2 linked regions of the Homo sapiens genome follow. The protein of the gene in region 1 interacts with the protein of each later gene in a biochemical or structural test. Each region holds a gene or a part of one and is shown in the gene's direction. Other genes may lie near its edges.

Region 1 (10,755 bases):
AAAAGTAGCTTAGAGTGTACCAGTTGATAATGAAGCTCTGGCTTAAAAATTAGTATATAAAAGTATACCAGTATGTAGTATATTTATAGTATAGAAATGAGTATAAAAACTAGTATAATTAGTATTAGTATATATTAGTATATTAGTATATAAATTAGCATTGTAATTATACATTCGTATATAAAATTATTATATATATTAGTAGATTAGTAATAAAACTAGTAAAGTTTATATTACTTATAAAATATAGAAAATGCTGTGGGATCTTCCCTATGTGTAATTATATATAATAGAGTGTTATATTCTGTTTCTGAACCCTGACATAAAAATTTGGGAACTTATAGTGGTCTTAGGCAAAGTAAAATTAATAAAAACTTAATTAACATTCATAAAAAATCTAGAAAAAATATTTGTTTTCTGTAATAGAATTATGTTCAACCTTCAAATATTGAAAAGAACATCTCTCAAATAAATTAAAGACTTTTTTGATGAAGTATTTTAGTTCAAAAATTTAGTTCAAAAATTGAGTTTCAATATCTGAGAATGAAGATTTGAGTGGTGAGTAATATTGTGGCACAAACATTATTTTGAAATAAATTACAAAAAAATGTAAGAACACATAACAAGGAGATGATTTAGTATATTTTGGTCAAAAATATTAACATATATTTCACAAGAAGAGGTAGTCCCAAGCTTAGCAGTGGGCAAGAGGCTCTGACCCCTTGGCGGATCATCAAGAGAATCGTGTGTACATTTCAATAAAGAGAAGAGAAGAAGCCTAGTGTACAATATCTAAAGTCATGTGGCATAAAGGAGAACAGACATTATTAGCTATGTGGGGAAGATGAATATAAACGGAGAAGAAACAAACTCAATAGTCCAATAAAGTCTCTGGATAGTGACACAAATAAGGAAAGTGTTAAAATGAAAACCTCAGTCTTATTGGAAATGAGGAGAAATAAACTAAAATAGTCATGGTAACCGTTTAGTGAAAAGAAAAAAGGTAAAAATAAAATGTGACTTTTTTGTACACATTTTCTTGATCAGTCTCTTCCAGTAGAACTGAGGCTCCATGAGGGAGTAATATCAGGACTGTAATATTTTGTTCATTGCTGCGGTCCTGGTCCCTAGACAGTGTCTGGCAAGAACAGATTCTAAAGAAATATTTTTAAGTTAATGAATAAATCTTTTTTTAAATTTTATTTGTCTTTTGAAATTATTATTATTATACTTTAAGTTTTAGGGTACATGTGCACAAAGTGCAGGTTTGTTACATATGTATACATGTGCCATGTTGGTGTGCTGCACCCATTAACACGTCATTTAACATTAGGTATATCTCCTAATGCTATCCCTCCCCACTCCCCCCACCCCACAACAGCCCCGGTGTGTGATGTTCCCCTTCCTGTGTCCGTGTGTTCCCATTGTTCAATTCCCACCTATGAGTGAGAACATGTGGTGTTTGGTTTTTTTGTCCTTGCGATAGTTTGCTGAGAATGATGGTTTCCAGCTTCATCCATGTCCCTACAAAGGACATGAACTCATCATTTTTTATGGCTGCATAGTATTCCATGGTGTATATGTGCCACATTTTCTTAATCCAGTCTATCATTGTTGGACATTTGGGTTGGTTCCAAGTCTTTGCTATTGTGAATAGTGCCGCAATAAACATACATGTGTATGTGTCTTTATAGCAGCATGATTTATAATCCTTTGGGTATATACCCAGTAATGGGATGGCTAGGTCAAATGGTATTCCTAGCTCTAGATCCCTGAGGAATCGCCACACTGACTTCCACAATGGTTGAACTAGTTTACAGTCCCACCAACAGTGTAAAAGTGTTCCTATTTCTCCACATCCTCTCCAGCACCTGTTGTTTCCTGACTTTTTAATGATCGCCATTCTAACTGGTGTGAGATGGTATCTCATTGTGGTTTTGATTTGCATTTCTCTGATGGCCAGTGATGATGAGCATTTTTTCATGTGATTTTTGGCTGTATAAATGTCTTCTTTTGAGAAGTGTTTGTTCATATCCTTTGCCCACTTTTTGATGGGGTTGTTTGTTTTTTTCTTGTAAATTTGTTGGAGTTCATTGTAGATTCTGGATATTAGCCCTTTGTCAGATGAGTAGATTGCAAAAATTTTCTCTCATTCTGCAGGTTGCCTGTTCACTCTGATGGTAGTTTCTTTTGCTGTGCAGAAGTTCTTTAGTTTAATTAGATCCCATTTGTCAATTTTGGCTTTTGTTGCCATTGCTTTTGGTCTTTTACACATGAAGTCCTTGCCCATGCCTATGTCCTGAATGGTATTGCCTAGGTTTTCTTCTAGGGTTTTTATGGTTTTAGGTCTGACATGTAAGTCTTTAATCCACCTTGAATTAATTTTTGTATAAGGTGTAAGGAAGGGACCCGGTTTCAGCTTTCTACATATGGCTAGCCAGTTTTCCCAGCACCATTTATTAAATAGGGAATCCTTTCCCCATTGCTTGTTTTTGTCAGCTTTGTCAAAGATCAGATAGTTGTAGACATGCGGCATTATTTCTGAGGGCTCTTTCCTGTTCCATTGGTCTTGGTATCAGTTTTGGTACCAAGTACCATGCTGTTTTGGTTACTGTAGCCTTGTAGTATAGTTTGAAGTCAGGTAGCATGATGCCTCCAGCTTTGTTCTTTTGGCTTAGGATTTACTTGGCAATGTGGCCTCTTTTTTGGTTCCATATGAACTTTAAAGTAGTTTTTTTCAATTCTGTGAAGAAAGTCATTGGTAGCTTAATGGGGATGGCATTGAATCTATAAATTACCTTGGGCAGTATGGCCATTTTCATGATATTGATTCTTCCTACCCATGAGCATGGAATGTTCTTCCATTTGTTTGTATCCTCTTTTATTTCCTTGAGCAGTGGTTTGTAGTTCTCCTTGGAGAGGTCCTTCTCATCCCTTGTAAGTTGGATTCCTAGGGATTTTATTCTCTTTGAAGCAATTTTGAATGGGAGTTCACTCATGATTTGGCTCTCTGTTTGTCTGTTATTGGTGTATATGAATGCTTGTGATTTTTGCACATTGATTTTGTATCCTGAGACTTTGCTGAAGTTGCTTATCAGCTTAAGGAGACTTTGGGCTGAGACGATGGGGTTTTCTAGATACACAGTCATGTCATCTGCAAACAGGGACAATTTGACTTCCTCTTTTCCTAATTGAATGACCTTTATTTCCTTCTCCTGCCTAATTGCCCTGGCCAGAACTTCCAACACTATGTTGAATAGGAGTGGTGAGAGAGGGCATCCCTGTCTTGTGCCAATTTTTAACGGGAATGCTTCCAGTTTTTGTCCATTCAGTATGATATTGGCAGTGGGTTTGTCATAGATAGCTCTTATTATTTTGAGATATGTCCCATCAATACCTAAATTATTGAGAGTTTTTAGCATGAAGTGTTGTTGAATTTTGTCAAAGGCCTTTTCTGCATCTATTGAGATAATCATGTGGTTTTTGTCTTTGGTTTTGTTTATATGCTGGATTACATTTATTGATTTTCGTATGTTGAACCAGCCTTGCATCCCAGGGATGAAGCCCACTTGATCATGGTGGATAAGCTTTTTGATGTGTTGCATAAATCTTTCCATACATATTTATAACTTCTTTATGCCTTTTGAAAAATTCAATACTGTAAATGGGACTTTTTTAAAAGTGGGGATAGAGTTGTTAGCTGAAAAATCTGAATAGCTGGCAATGAAGTTTGGAATTTGAAAAATGAGAATCGCAAGCCAGAATGGATTTTGACCTCCTTCATGTGATATAACTTCTATTTAGTATTTATTCTATTTATTTTCTAAATGCAGATATTTTTGTTATATATTATCTCTCTTTTTTTTTTGTTTTATAAAAAGTAACCTTACCTACATAAGAAAGTATATCCAATTGACCAATCTTCCACCATTCCATTTTTTCTACATTCACAGGACTTAGTAGCCATGAAGGTCCTCATCCTCGCCTGCCTGGTGGCTCTTGCTCTTGCAAGGGAGGTATGTGCACAAGAAAAAATTCCTAAACAATCAATAAATAGTGGACTATATGCTTATTTGTAGAGAATAACATCACCAACATTTTTTACTGTATAAATAATGAAGAATTTCATGAGAATTCTCTTGGCTTCTATCAAAATCATTTATATTTACCCACTGTCTCAACAGTTTCCTATAGTGCCCCAAATGCTTCCTGCACCAATGTGCTGCTAGTCACTAAAGAAAAAGCAAACAAATCAATAAGTAATAAAAAATCATAAAAATGGCAACGAAATATAATATTGCATAAATACAACTCCAAAGATTCTCAAGCTAGATAAATATATCTTATTCCAGTGATAAAATGTATATATACCTTACAGCCTAGGGCACTGGGTCAAATCCTGTGTCTGTCTGTACAAAGACATCCATGGGATGAAGTACAGAGACAATCATAATCATGATCATAAATATATTAATAATAATATAATAAAAATATTTAATACAAATTAAAGTGACTCTTCTTTTACCCATAAAAAACTCTGTCTTTAATAAATGTAAGATAAAAATATATTAATAGATTACTAAATATAAAAGACATTAAAGTAATTACCTTTTAAACCTCAAAAGTCATATAACATTTTTTATTTCTCAAATTTGTGAAAGAGATAGCTCTGCATAAGTGATGTAAAAATTAAGTAGGATGCATGTTTAACAATGAGTTAGCTATAGAAGTTGAATTTTTAAACATCTTTTCAGAAGGAACAATCCAATGCATCCTCTGAGGTGAGATTATTTTTTTAGAGAAAATTTATGAACCATAAAATAGTAAAATTCTCTAATGATCTAGAAGATTTAGCTGGTTGTCAATTTTTTTTTCCCACAGACCATAGAAAGCCTTTCAAGCAGTGAGGTAAGTTAACATTCTACCCAATTTTAGAACAGTAAAATCCTGTGCTATTTTTCTATGGTGTTACATCATGGCAGTTAAGCTAATGCAGCTATGTTAATGACATATAAGTTCTAGTACATATTTCTTTTATGTGTGTTTAAGGACAATAAGTATCTGGATAATACAACATTCTAGAACTTTGTAAATTGGCTTGCTACTTGAAATTGTGTTATTTTGCTTCTTTTTTTTTTAATGAACCATATTGTCCTGTTTTCTGCCTTGAACTCTCTTTACTCTGAACTTATTCACCTTAAGCATATACTGACGGCCTTCTATGGGTCAGACATTGACTAGGAGCTGTGGTACAAACTGAAAAGTTAGAGATGCCAGTGATAGTTAAGAGCTTGCTAAGTAGTAGGTAGGCAGACGTGCAAAAAGGACACATTTTATAATTACAATAGCCACTTTAGTAAATAAGCGAGATTTAGTGTAGTCCTAAATTTACCTGAGAGAGTCAGGTAGATATTTATTCTTACACCACTCTTCTTGGGTGTGTGATCACTTGATAAGTAAATGGTACATCAATAGATTCTGTCTCTTCAGAAAGGTTATATGATCCTTAAGGGAAGTGTTTAACTCTTATGATTCATTTGAAGTGATCATAATGTATCAATTGTTATTAGAATATATTTTCAATGAGTATTTCTTTTTTTAAAAATCAGATGGGGTTTTAGATATCATTTGTTGTCAGGGAATGAGCATGGTGGTAGAGAGAAATTAGCATCTATTAATTGCTTTTTTTTGTACCATGTCCTTCTTGACTGCATTCATCTGACTTTCTTTTACATAACAAGCTCATATAGAACAGTTTAATACATAAGTTTAATGATTATACAAAGTTATTAATGATATTATCAAAGAATTAATGCCTTTATTTCCTGATTTATATTGCAAAGTAAGAATTGTTAAAACTAAACCTAATTTTATTTTATATTTTTCTGTAGGAATCTATTACAGAATACAAGGTAAATTTTCACATTTAAAATGTACACATTTTCAAAATTTCCTCCTTTTAATCTTTACAGATGGTAACATATCTTTATATATGATATATCTTTAGCAGAAAGTTGAGAAGGTTAAACATGAGGACCAGCAGCAAGGAGAGGTAATTTGTTAATGATAAGTATATGTTTAAAATTATTATAAAGTATAATACATACAAAAATATTTATAATGTGTATGTTGATTCTAAAGAATGATAATAAAATAAATGCCATATACCCACCAACCACTTTAAAAATTAAACATTGATAAAGTCAATATATTTTCTAGGATATGCATGCATTTTTAAACTCATAATTAATTTCTAGAATACAGACTAAATACATAATGATATTACTAATGGTATATCTGTTTTCAACAAGTACACATTGGTGGGAACATTTCCAGGTTGGGAACTATGATCCTCTTATTTCCAAGGTGGATATGGTAATGAAAAGGTGTATACGGCTGGTAAAAAAACCTATGTAAAATTTGTCCCATATTGCCTTTATTCCCATATGGACAACACAAAATCCTGTATTTCATTAAATTACATTTATGGTGATATGTTTACCCAATTATAATTTTCAATTGCTTTGTGTACCAATGAATTGTTTGGAGTCACATAAAATATTTCTAAAATCAAATTTAAACAAAAAAATTGATGTCTCTTGAAAGACTCAAGAGACTATCTTCTCCCAAGGGAAGGAATGTAAGAATTTGGCCGGTGTTAAATTACTTCCTGAGATTAGCCACAAATTAAGACTGATTTTCTTTTTCATCAAACCAAAACAAAACAAAAATAAACCTTGGAATTGTCCCTCTAAGTCTTTTTAAACTGATCTCTTTTCACTGTATGAAAACAATTTGGTCTACTATTGGCACAACTGTGTTGAAAAGTAAATTCTCTCTGAAGACCAAAGTGTACAGCTACAGCTATCCAGGCAATTCAGGAAAATGTTAAAAAAAGTGTTTCTGAAATATCCAAACATTGATTTCACTTTGGCCTGTGGAGTTACCCATGAAGTGAGTGGATTAAAATTTTTCAACAAACAGTTTACTCATTTTTCTTCGCATGACTCAAGATACTTTCTTAACCAAAATAAGTGAAATATTTTCTCCTCTCTTTTTACTCATTTATCATTGTCTAAAAGAGAGAAATGAATTCATTATGAATGGCAATTATAGCTTAATCAAGGACTCAAAGATTCTTTTTCCTTCTTTCCAGGATGAACACCAGGATAAAATCTACCCCTCTTTCCAGCCACAGCCTCTGATCTATCCATTCGTTGAACCTATCCCCTATGGTTTTCTTCCACAAAACATTCTGCCTCTTGCTCAGCCTGCTGTGGTGCTGCCTGTCCCTCAGCCTGAAATAATGGAAGTCCCTAAAGCTAAAGACACTGTCTACACTAAGGGCAGAGTGATGCCTGTCCTTAAATCTCCAACGATACCCTTTTTTGACCCTCAAATCCCAAAACTCACTGATCTTGAAAATCTGCATCTTCCTCTGCCTCTGCTCCAGCCCTTGATGCAGCAGGTCCCTCAGCCTATTCCTCAGACTCTTGCACTTCCCCCTCAGCCCCTGTGGTCTGTTCCTCAGCCCAAAGTCCTGCCTATCCCCCAGCAAGTGGTGCCCTACCCTCAGAGAGCTGTGCCTGTTCAAGCCCTTCTGCTCAACCAAGAACTTCTACTTAACCCCACCCACCAGATCTACCCTGTGACTCAGCCACTTGCCCCAGTTCATAACCCCATTAGTGTAAGTCCAAATTTACTGGCTTTGCTGTTTCATTCAAGATGTGTATGTGATGGTAGAATAAAAGAATAAATGTAGAGTAAATGAATTAAAAAAACAGTTTAGATAAGTGATTCTTTTATTATTATACTTTAAGTTTTAGGGTACATGTGCACAACATGCAGGTTAGTTACATATGTATACATGTGCCATGTTGGTGTGCTGCACCCATTAACTCGTCATTTAACATTAGGTATATCTCCTAATGCTATCCCTACCCCCTACCCCCACCCCACGACAGGTCCAGGTGTGTGATGTTCCCCTTCCTGTGTCCATGTGTTCTCATAGATAAGTGATTCTTAATGCTTACCTATACAATAGAATCACCTGGAGAACTTTTCCCCACAAATCCCAATGCCTAAGCTTACCCAGAGATTCTGATATAATTGTTCTAGTTTTTTGTGTAGAGGAAACTGAGTGTTGAGAAAAAAACTATTGCATGAATTCTGGTTTAATTAGTCTGTTGAGAATTCTGATTTAGATAAAGTAATTAAGGCTTACAAAAGCCGGAATTAAATTTAATAATATGATTGAATTTGGAAAAAAAAGCTAAAAAATGTTCTGTCATTTTCCTTGTGCACATCTCTTTTACACAAGCCTTACTTCACATCTTGTTTTTGCTATAAGTATATATGAAGGCAAAAGACTGAGATGCTTATTTCACTACTTACAACATTCTTAAGGCAAGTTTTCTTACTAAGAGGTTATTTATTTATTTATTTATTTATTTATTTTACACAAGCCTTACTTCACATCTGGTTTTTGCTGTAAATATATATGAAGGCAAAAGACGGAGATGCTTATTTCACTACTTACAACATTCTTAAGGCAAGTTTTCTTACTAAGAGGTTATTTATTTATTTGTATCTGTTTATTTTTAAGGTCTAAGAAGATTTCAAAGTTAATTTTCCCTCCTTATTTTTGGTAAGTTTTGGGAGTTTGGAGATTTAATTGATCATTTTTATACATGATGTCTTTTTACATTTAATTCTCCTAGAGAAGTCCAATACAGTGAAAATTTCATACATACAAGAACTTTTTTTATTAATTATCAATTTAATGGTTGACTATCATTTACTGACCTGAAACTATCTATCTTTTGCATTTCAAATAACTTTAATTTTATTTATGTACTATTGACAGATTTGACTGGCTTGCTTTCAAGGGCCTATATACTTACATTTGATTATCACTATTTTTAGGAAAGACAGAATATATACTTATTTTACTTTTATGGAAATACATTTGAGCTTTTGTCAAAAGCCTATTTGCATTTTTATTTCTAACCTAGCCTTCATAAAATTTGTATTTACTTTACTTAAAATTATCTTTTAATTCATGAGTTAAAATTACTCCAAGTGTAAAGGTTAAAAAGAGGAGAGAACAGCATTGCAATTCTAAGATATAAAGCCTTTTGGGATTATGAAATACCAGACATTTCACTGAAACAATTTCAAGTTCACTAATATTTGATGAACTTTGGTGAAGTTTGGTGAACAAACTTTACATGCCTCCAAACCGCAACAGAATGCATTTGCAATACAATTTCTTTTGTGAATTAGTCACACCAAAGTTAAAAGTGAAGAGAGTTGAATAGTTACGTGTTATAACATAACTAATTATATATTTGCTCTCTATTCCACAGAATTGACTGAGACTGGAAATATGATGCCTTTTCCGTCTTTGTATCACGTTACCCCAAATTAAGTATGTTTGAATGAGTTTATATGGAAAAAATGAACTTTGTCCCTTTATTTATTTTATATATTATGTCATTCATTTAATTTGAAATTTGACTCATGAACTATTTACATTTTCCAAATCTTAATTCAACTAGTACCACAGAAGTTCAATACTCATTTGGAAATGCTACAAACATATCAAACATATGTATACAAATTGTTTCTGGAATTGTGCTTATTTTTATTTCTTTAAGAATCTATTTCCTTTCCAGTCATTTCAATAAATTATTCTTAAGCATATTTCAGTTCTTCTGTCTTTTTTTCAAACCTAATCGGCCTCTTTAATGTTAACTTTGATTTATTATTGATGTTCAAAATAATCCTGGAAGAATGCTTTGAAATTGAATAGAATGTTTTGAATTGAATATTAAAAGATATCAAAAAGTGGAGGAAAAGAAAGGATGCTTTTATACTCCATTTGCTATAGAAAGTTTTGGGTTATGCCTATTTTCCCAGTGTCATTATTATAGCTATGCCTTTCACTTTCAAAATGATCCAGCATTGGATGTTAAATTTTGTGGTGACCCTGGGAAAAAAACTTTAAATGTGAAACCTGAAACACAACTTGCCACAGGTAGCTATGTGATGTTGTAAGAGCTTTAATTGCCACATGGATAAAATAGTGCAAAGAATTTTACTGAAGATTTGATTACATATTAGTAACATGATGAGTGTACTGTATAGTAAATGATAGATGATCCCTATTGCTCCACATTGCTGACATTGCTTATACCACAGCACCAAAGCATTCTAACAAATCAAAATGAACTGGGTAATGTGGTGTTAGCCAGCAACGCTGAAGAAAGTAAGGGATGTGAAACTCTGACAGCCATTAATTCTAACTGTGAAGTAGTTGTTTATTGTGATTGATTTTCTCTCTTTCTATACCAACTCCTCCACTTGTACATTCAATTATATCTTCCTGAGTTTATGCAGTGACTCATGTCTAGCAATTATCCCATCTTTCTTATATTTCCAGTGTTTCCCTGGCCCTTATTACAACATAAGCATCATGGAAGACCTGCTTATACTATAATATCTCCCATCATTAAAGAAAAAATCTGCTTCCTTAACACTGTACCTCCAAACCTCTCCCAATTATTTAGATTATATCAATTGTCATACTAAAGTAACCATAGGGTTGTTTCCATATCTCATATCTTATTCTGTTATTAACCCACTCCAATCAAAATTTCATCCCTCACTGAAACCACTTCTTTTCAAGGTTACCAATAATTTTCATATTGCTAATTTGTGTTCATTTTACCCAACCTCTCAGTGTTATTTGGT
Region 2 (8,091 bases), on another chromosome or scaffold:
CTGGGATTACACGCGTGAGCCACCACACCCAGCCTCCATCTTTAAACTTTTAAATGTGAAATTTCTATCATGTACCGTTAGCCTAACAAGATTTTCTTTCCTATTTCTGACTGGTGCCTTTCCCCTTTTTAGGAGCAACGAAAGCTACTCTCTTAGTTATGTTCTTGTGATGTGACAAAATGTCAAGAAGATAGGAGAAGAGAATATTTTATTTCGTTGATGCTTTTGTTCCCAAGTGTGACCCTAAACTTAAGCTTTGTAGGAGTTGACATTCTTTCATGTCCCTTCCCTTTACTCATGCCGAAACTATCAACTGGGACATTTTGTGCTTTTGGTTTAAAAGTTAATTGATATTATACTTTGGTTTTATCTAAAAAGTAAATGTATTTGCCTTTGACAAAAGACTGACACAAGAGCAAATAAGCTTTAAAATCGGGTGTTATGTGCTTTCCTCCATTTTTGAGCATATTATCCAAAATGGTCTGTATAATATAAATGAGAATGATGCAGTTTAAGTAAGCCTTGTTATACCATTGTCATGGACCCCTGTCATAAAGCCATTTCTTGGTTTGTTTGGGAAAGAGGCATATGGGATTTATACAGATTCACTTGTAAATGTTGGATTGGGGATTTTTGTGTAAATTTTCTCAAATAAAGGCTAGCAGAAACCATTTTAGGTGTACTGTTACTCTTGAGTACTTCTATGTCTGGATTGGTGATAATTCTTCCATATTTCTCTTTTAAATTATGGCAAATTATACCTGATGAATTAGAGAAAAAATATTGTTATTCTTCAGTTACTGCAGATCGATAGTTTATATGAGCTAGTAAAAGATTATCATATTTTGTATGTAATATATGTAAATTATATATATATATATAATTAAGAATCCTTAATTATGCATCCTCAGACCAAATATGGTTCTGTAAGCTAGGCATTTTATTCTCTTTATCTTCTCTCTTTTGGAAACTGTTACTATTAGGTTCGCACAAAAGTAATTGTGGTTTTTGCAATTAAAATTGCAATTGCATAGAATCACTCCTACAGAGAGCCATCTCCCCTGCCTTTCATTCCTAAAAGACCCCCACCCCCCACCCCCGGTATATGAATCCTCAGGACTCACTTTTTAGGCCTATCATATCCAATGCAAAACCCCACTCCAGGAGGTAAACGTCTTTTCTCCTCTCCTTTCACTTACAGTTGAACATTTTTCACAAAGCGACTTTCCAAGAGCCAATATGAAGTGCTTTGCACACCCACTGGCTGGCCTCTTATTTATCCTCTTATCTCCATTCTCCCTCAAATAAATTTTATTATGAATCCATAGTGTGTAAAGTAGTGGTTCCCATTATTGGGGTATAATTTTTTTTTCTTTTCTTTTTTTTTTTTTTTGAGACGGAGTTCACTCTTGTTGCCCAGGCTGGAGTACAATGGCATGATCTCGGCTCACCACAACCTCCGCCTTCCGGGTTCAAGCAATTCTCCTGCCTCAGCCTCCCGAGTAGCTGGGATTACAGGCATGTACCAGCACGCCCAGCTAATTTTGTATTTTTAGTAGAGATGGAGTTTCATTATGTTGGCCAGGCTGGTCTTGAACTCCCAACCTCGTGATCCACCCACCTCAGCCTCCCAAAGTGCTGGGATTACAGGCGTGAGCCACCGTGCCCGGCCCAATACATGCTTTATAAATCATTTATTTAGTCTGCTGCAGTGGTGTCTCATAAAATGTTGAGCTGCATGTATAATTTTAAATTTTCTAGTATCACATTAAAGAAGTAAAAAACAGGTAAAATTTGCTGATTCTCCAGCCTCCCGAGTAGCTGGGATTACAGGCACATGCCACCACGCCCAGGTAATTTTTGTATTTTTAGTAGAGATGGGGTTTCACCATGTTGGCCAGGATGGTCTCGAACTCCTGACCTCGTGGTCTGCTCACCTTGGCCTCCCAAAGTGCTGGAATTATAGGCATCAGCCACTGTGCCCAGCCGAAAATTATTTTTAGTAGTGTATTTAACCTAATATACCCAAAATATTATTTCAACATATAGTTAATATAAAAATGGTTAATGAGATGTTTTGCATTCCATTTTTCATATAAAATCTTGAAAATCCAGTGTGCATTTCAAGCTATACCGCATCTATAGCTTAAAATTAGACTAGCCACAATTCAAGTGTTGAGTAGCTATATGTAGCTAATGGCTACCGTGGCAGACAGTGAAGGGTATAAACTTGGGTTGGTCTTTGGTAGATTCTTTCATCTTGACAGTAACTCTATGGCCCCTGGGAATTTGCCATTCACAAATTGGAAACTAATGCAAAATAGCATTCTAACCATTCACTTGTTAAAGTACAATGTGGAAATAGTTTGGTTTCAACCAAAGGCGCTTTAAAATTTTACACCTTGGCCAGGTGCAGTGGCTCACACCTGTAATCCCAACACTTTAGCAGGCCAATCACTTGAGGTCAGGAGTTCGAGAACCAGCCTGGCCAACATGGCAGAATGCCCTCTCTACTAAAAATACAAAAATTAGCTGGGCATGGTGGCGGACGCTTGTAATCCCAGCTACTCAGGAGACTGAGGCATGAGAATCACTTGAACTTGGGAGGTGGAGGCTGCAGTGTGCTGAGATCATGCCACTGCACTCCATCCTGAGTGACAGAGTGAGACTGTCTCCAAAAAAAAAAAAAAAGTTATACCATTAGAATAAATGTTGACTATTTTTGAACTTATAAATATTCAAAGGTAAGACAATTAGTTTCAGTTATATCCAATATAATGAAGAATTCAGCAGGAATGTCTCTGCTCTATAATAGGACATGTTTCTTCTAGGCTTGTAGTATCTATGCATTATCATTAGAACAATTCAGTTTCAGGCCAACCACGTTATAGAAAACTAGTTCCTCGTTGCAAAGGTGCCAGAAAAAAATGAATTTTTAAGCTTAGGCTGAAATCTATTCAGCCTCTTTGAAAGTCAGCATTCCCAATTTTAAGTAATTGGTTTTTTCCCATTCAACTGAGAAACAATTTATTGAGCATCTTTTCTGTTTAACAGAGTTAATCGAGAATAACAGAATTAAGTTAATAGAATTAACAGATTTAAGCCAAACTAAACTCTGGAGTTTATCTAGATAAACAAGAGGCAATACCTATCCTCAAAGTGCCTTCTAATTAATAGGAGGATGTAGATGGAATGGCCTCTACCTGAAATGATCTCTCTACTTTGTTTAGACTTAACATTTTGTATATTCCTGCACTCACACAGCAAGTTTGGCTTGGACAGATGCCACTCCTAAATGCCTCTCTAGAATCTTGCACTTTAATAGCCCTTATAGAAACTGTTTTAATTGCCTGGTGGTTTTCTGTTACATGTAAGCTCTCTTAAAGTAGGAACTTTTCACAAATCGATATGACACAATGTATTTTTATGTATTTGAGACAGGTTCTCACTCTGTTGCCCAGGCTCGAGTGCAGTGGCATGATCTTGGCTCACCGCAACCTCCGCCTCCCCAGTTCAAGCAATTCTTGTGCCTCAGCGTCCCAAGTAGCTGGGATTACAGGTGTGTGCACGCCTGGCTAATTTTTGTATTTTTAGTGGACACGGGGTTTCACCATGTTGGCCAGGCTGAACTCGAACTCCAGGCTTCAAGTGATCGGCCCTCCCAAAGTGCTGGGATTACAAGTGTGAGCCACCACGCCCGGCTAGGCACATGGCTTTCTCTTAGCCCCATCACATCCTGCTTTTTCAGATTGCTGGGTTCAACTTCCCAGCTCCCTCTTACTAGGTCTGTCACATTAAGCAGGTTACTTAGGTACCTCTGTTTCTGTAAAATGGGAATGTTAGGATAATACATAATACATAATACATAGGATAATACATAATAATGTGAGATAATACGTAAAAAACCTTTAGCATAGTACCCAGAACATAACACTCAATAAATGTTAGCTGTTATGTCTGTGATGTAGACCACATTCTCACAACAAAACAAGCTTGGAGATGAGAAGTTGCCCAAGGTCACATAATTGCCCAAGGTCACATAACTGATGGAACACCTATTGTTCACCGTATTGCTGTTTTCCTACTTGACGGTAGGGAGAACATTATTGCAGATTTCCTGTTCCCAAACAGTGTGTGGCACCAAGTGCTCAAAGAATGTTTCATGATATCATATGGTCAAATATCTGGAAAAACACATAGAATAAATTGAATCTGGAAAAAGAGACGGGGGAGAAGGAAAGTGTCAGGAGAGTTGACTTAAAATATTTTTGGAGTTGTGTAGAAGAGGGAGGGACTTAGGATGGCCCTGGGAGAAAGAACTCGGCCCAGGGACCGAGATGACCGGAGGCAGACATTTAGGCTGTCTATATTATTATTATTTTTTTTTTTTTTGAGACAAAGTCTCGCTCTGTTATCCAGGCTGGAGTGTAGTGCGCGATCTCGGCTCGCTGCAACCTCCTCCTTCCGGGTTCAAGTGATTCACCTGCCTCAGCCTCTGGAGTAGCTGGGATTACAGGTGCCTGCCACCACGCCTGGCTAATTTTTGTATTTTATAGAGACGGGGTTTCACCAGTTGGTCAGGCTGGTCTCAAACGCCTGACCTCAGGTGATCCGCCCGCCTCGGCTTCCTAACATGCTGAGATTACAGGCGTGAGCCACCTTGCCCGGCCATATTATCTTTACTATACTATCTCTCTAAAAAAGAATGCTGTCCAACGTTGGAATGGGGAAGAAGGTGTACACTGGGAATGCTTCCCCAATCACCCTCTTGTCACAGACCTGACGTCAAGATGAGACTGGACGACCTCTGGGCCTCCAAGTTGTATGAGTCCGGACCGGGGAGGCAGAGAAGGGTCAATAGACCCGAGAGGCCGTACCGTCAGTGATGCCCTTGTTCCCGTGGGAGCCCTTCGGTTCCACGCGGTTCCCACCACGCGCCCGCCAACCCTAGCCCGAGGCCTCACTTTGCAGGCCTTCCCCGAAAGCGGGAAGCCTTGGCCGCTAGACTAGCCAAGAGGGTAAGCAAAGGCGGAGGAAACTCAGCCAGGCCGGAAACACAGAGAACTGTTTCCGGGTCGGGGGGCAGGAGCCACCATCGAGCTTCGCGGGGTTGCTGGGCTGACGGATCCGCGGGCCGGCATCTGAAGCGAGCGGGACGCAGCGCGGCCAGGGCCTCCGGGCATACGCAGGCTGGTCCCCAAGGCCCGCGGCCGCCGCCATGTCGGTGCTGGGCGAGTACGAGCGACACTGCGATTCCATCAACTCGGACTTTGGGAGCGAGTCCGGGGGTTGCGGGGACTCGAGTCCGGGGCCTAGCGCCAGTCAGGGGCCGCGAGCCGGCGGCGGCGCGGCGGAGCAGGAGGAACTGCACTACATCCCCATCCGCGTCCTGGGCCGCGGCGCCTTCGGGGAAGCCACGCTGTACCGCCGCACCGAGGTAGCGGCCCTCGGCGCCGGCCGCCCTGTCTGGCGCTGTCGGGTCGCCCCGAGTCCCTCCTTCTCGGCCCCGCTTTCCCAGCGTCGTGAGCTTAGTGCTTTAGGCGCCCACGGGGTATATGTCTTAGGGTCTTCACCACTCTTCCCACTCACCGGCACTAGAAATTGGCTAGATCATTGGTTTGACTAGTCATTTTTGATTGTCCTAAGTCACCTAACCGTCTCTTGAGCTTTAGTTTCCCCATCTGTAAAATGGGCTTACTGATAATACCTTGAAATCATCTTTTTCTTTTTTTTTTAAGATTATCTTGAGAATCAAACGAAGGCTCTGTTCTGTAAATTAAAGTGGTATACGAATGTGAGGTATTGCCAAAACTTCCTTCCTCTCATGCTGTATATATAGTTCTCCAAGGTCGGGGTGAGGAGGAGGGGCATAGCTTCAAAATCCCCACACCCGTGGCAACTCCGTTATTTTTGTCATTATCTTTAAGTTCAGCAGTGATCACTCAGTTGGAAGCTTTTCTTGAAGCTCATTGGGAAGATCTTTGTGTGTTGGTTCTTTATCAGTGTTTATCTTGCAGGGTTTATGCATGGGAAATACTTTGTTGGTATATTCTAAGCCATTAGTTCTTAATTTGGGGGGCACAAGGACCCCTTTGATAACCTAAGCAAAGTAATCTTGCCCCCTCCATCAACACATTTGCACATATGCACATCCTTTGGAGAGATCCATGGATCACGGAATCCCAAGTTAATATATACTAGTGTAAAACCCTGCAGTGATTATTCTACTTCCAAAAACTAACGATACACTAGATTTGATCATAAAATCTTACTTTAGGGTAAACATTTAATGAGAACTTGCTGGGGTTGCTGAAGGTGATTCATCCGTCGGAAATCCATCTGCAGTTCTGGTGTGTGTTCCAAGCCAGCATACTTTTAAGGCTGAAAGATGGAGAAGGAGAGAAGTGGTTGCAAGAGAATATTTTTAAGTGTTCTTTTTTATCCTGATGCCACGTTAATGTATGATGTTAGAGTTAGTTATTCTTAGTAGTCTGTTTTCTTTTTTGCACTCAAAATGAGAAAGAGGAGATAAGGATTGTTATTTCTATATTTTAGTTAGAGAAACTAAAACAGTATACTTAAGTGACTTGCTCACTTAAGTTACAAGTAAATCTTGGACTAGAACTAAAGTCTCACATCTTGCCCATTGCCTTTTTATTATTATCCTGTTGAACTTGATTACTGGGTTGGTTTTGAGTTAAATTTGATTACACTTCCCAAAAATTGCATAGCGTTGTCCATATCACCAAATATTTATTAGATCTGTGAATTTACAAAAGTTCAGAAGCACTCTTTTTCTCTAGAAGCTTATATTTCAGTAGGAAAATAAGTTGACCATTGTTAGTAAACAAATAGCATTAAGTTGCATATGTAGAGATATGAAAAGAATGAACAAATATCATTTCAGTGTATGGGGTCTAAAAATTAAAGACATGGTTACAGTAAAAGCTTCATCAGAGTCTTTTCAAAAACACTGTAAAGGCTTGGCAGAGGCATTCAAAAGGATGGGGAGGGTTACATAGGTGGAGATGCTCCTGGGCTAGGAAGCAGGGTCAGCAAAGAATGAGGCGAGGCACAGTGGCTCATGCCTATAATCCCAACACCTGGGAGGCCAAGGTGGTCGGGTCGCTTGAGGCCAGGAGTTCTAGACCAGCCTGGGCAACACAGTGATACCCCATCTCTTAAAAAAAAAAAAAAAAAATTTAGCTGAGTGTGGCAGTGCGTGCCTGTAGTCCCAACTACTGGGGAAGCTGAGGTGGGAGGATTGCTTCAGCCCAGGAGTTCAAAGCTGAAATGAGCTATGACTGCACTCTAGTTTGGGCAACAGAGTGAGACCCTATCTCTTAAAAAAAAAAAAAAAAAAAGATAGTAGACATCAGGAGCTACAGGATACATAAAAGTATGAGAGGAGATTATAGAGTTGCAAAAGGGGTCATGACTTCTCTTATCCAGAAAGGGTAGGTGAAAATCACTAGGGAAGTCTAAATTTATAAAACTAGAGGCAAGTTTAGTATTTTCATTTTAGAAGCTGGGACCAGCTATAGATAATTGCTCCCCAGTTCTCTGCTTCTCCAGTATTCTTGCCCTGCCATAATCACCATCATGATTAGCAGTCTGTCATAGTATCCTCAATAGAATCTTTTTGAGATCTATCCCCAGCCCATATTTTTACCTGGAACTGACATCATGCAAATTAAGTATGACAACAACGTTTTAATGCTTTACTTCCCCTGTCCTGCAATAAATTATAATGCTAAATTGTACACATAACCTTTAAAGTCTGTTAAAAGGAAAAAATAAGAGGAGTCAGTCTGTGCCCCTCTAGGAAGTTTTCCTTCTAGGCTTACAGATCTAGGTGTGGATTCATTTGCTGCCAGGCAAGAGGAAAAGCACGATACCTCTGTTACTGTGTTTAGGATGACTCACTGGTTGTGTGGAAGGAAGTCGATTTGACCCGGCTGTCTGAGAAGGAACGTCGTGATGCCTTGAATGAGATTGTTATTCTGGCACTGCTGCAGCACGACAACATTATTGCCTACTACAATCACTTCATGGACAATACCACGCTGCTGATTGAGCTGGAATATTGTA

What was found.
Region 2: of the proteins of CSN2 (region 1) and NEK9, one has a biochemical effect on the other in vitro, tested with the Homo sapiens proteins (one study listed by BioGRID).

Annotation. Positions count from the first base shown.
Region 1 is NC_000004.12:69,954,206-69,964,960, reverse strand, and holds the end of CSN2 (beta-casein isoform 1 precursor), read left to right. Parts: intron 1-3,953; 5' UTR 3,954-3,965; coding exon 3,966-4,016; intron 4,017-4,881; coding exon 4,882-4,908; intron 4,909-5,891; coding exon 5,892-5,912; intron 5,913-6,007; coding exon 6,008-6,052; intron 6,053-7,156; coding exon 7,157-7,687; intron 7,688-8,605; coding exon 8,606-8,611; 3' UTR 8,612-8,647; intron 8,648-9,368; 3' UTR 9,369-9,705; downstream 9,706-10,755. UniProt on the Homo sapiens protein: Important role in determination of the surface properties of the casein micelles.
Region 2 is NC_000014.9:75,124,049-75,132,139, reverse strand, and holds the start of NEK9 (serine/threonine-protein kinase Nek9), read left to right. Parts: upstream 1-5,091; 5' UTR 5,092-5,218; coding exon 5,219-5,437; intron 5,438-7,916; coding exon 7,917-8,091.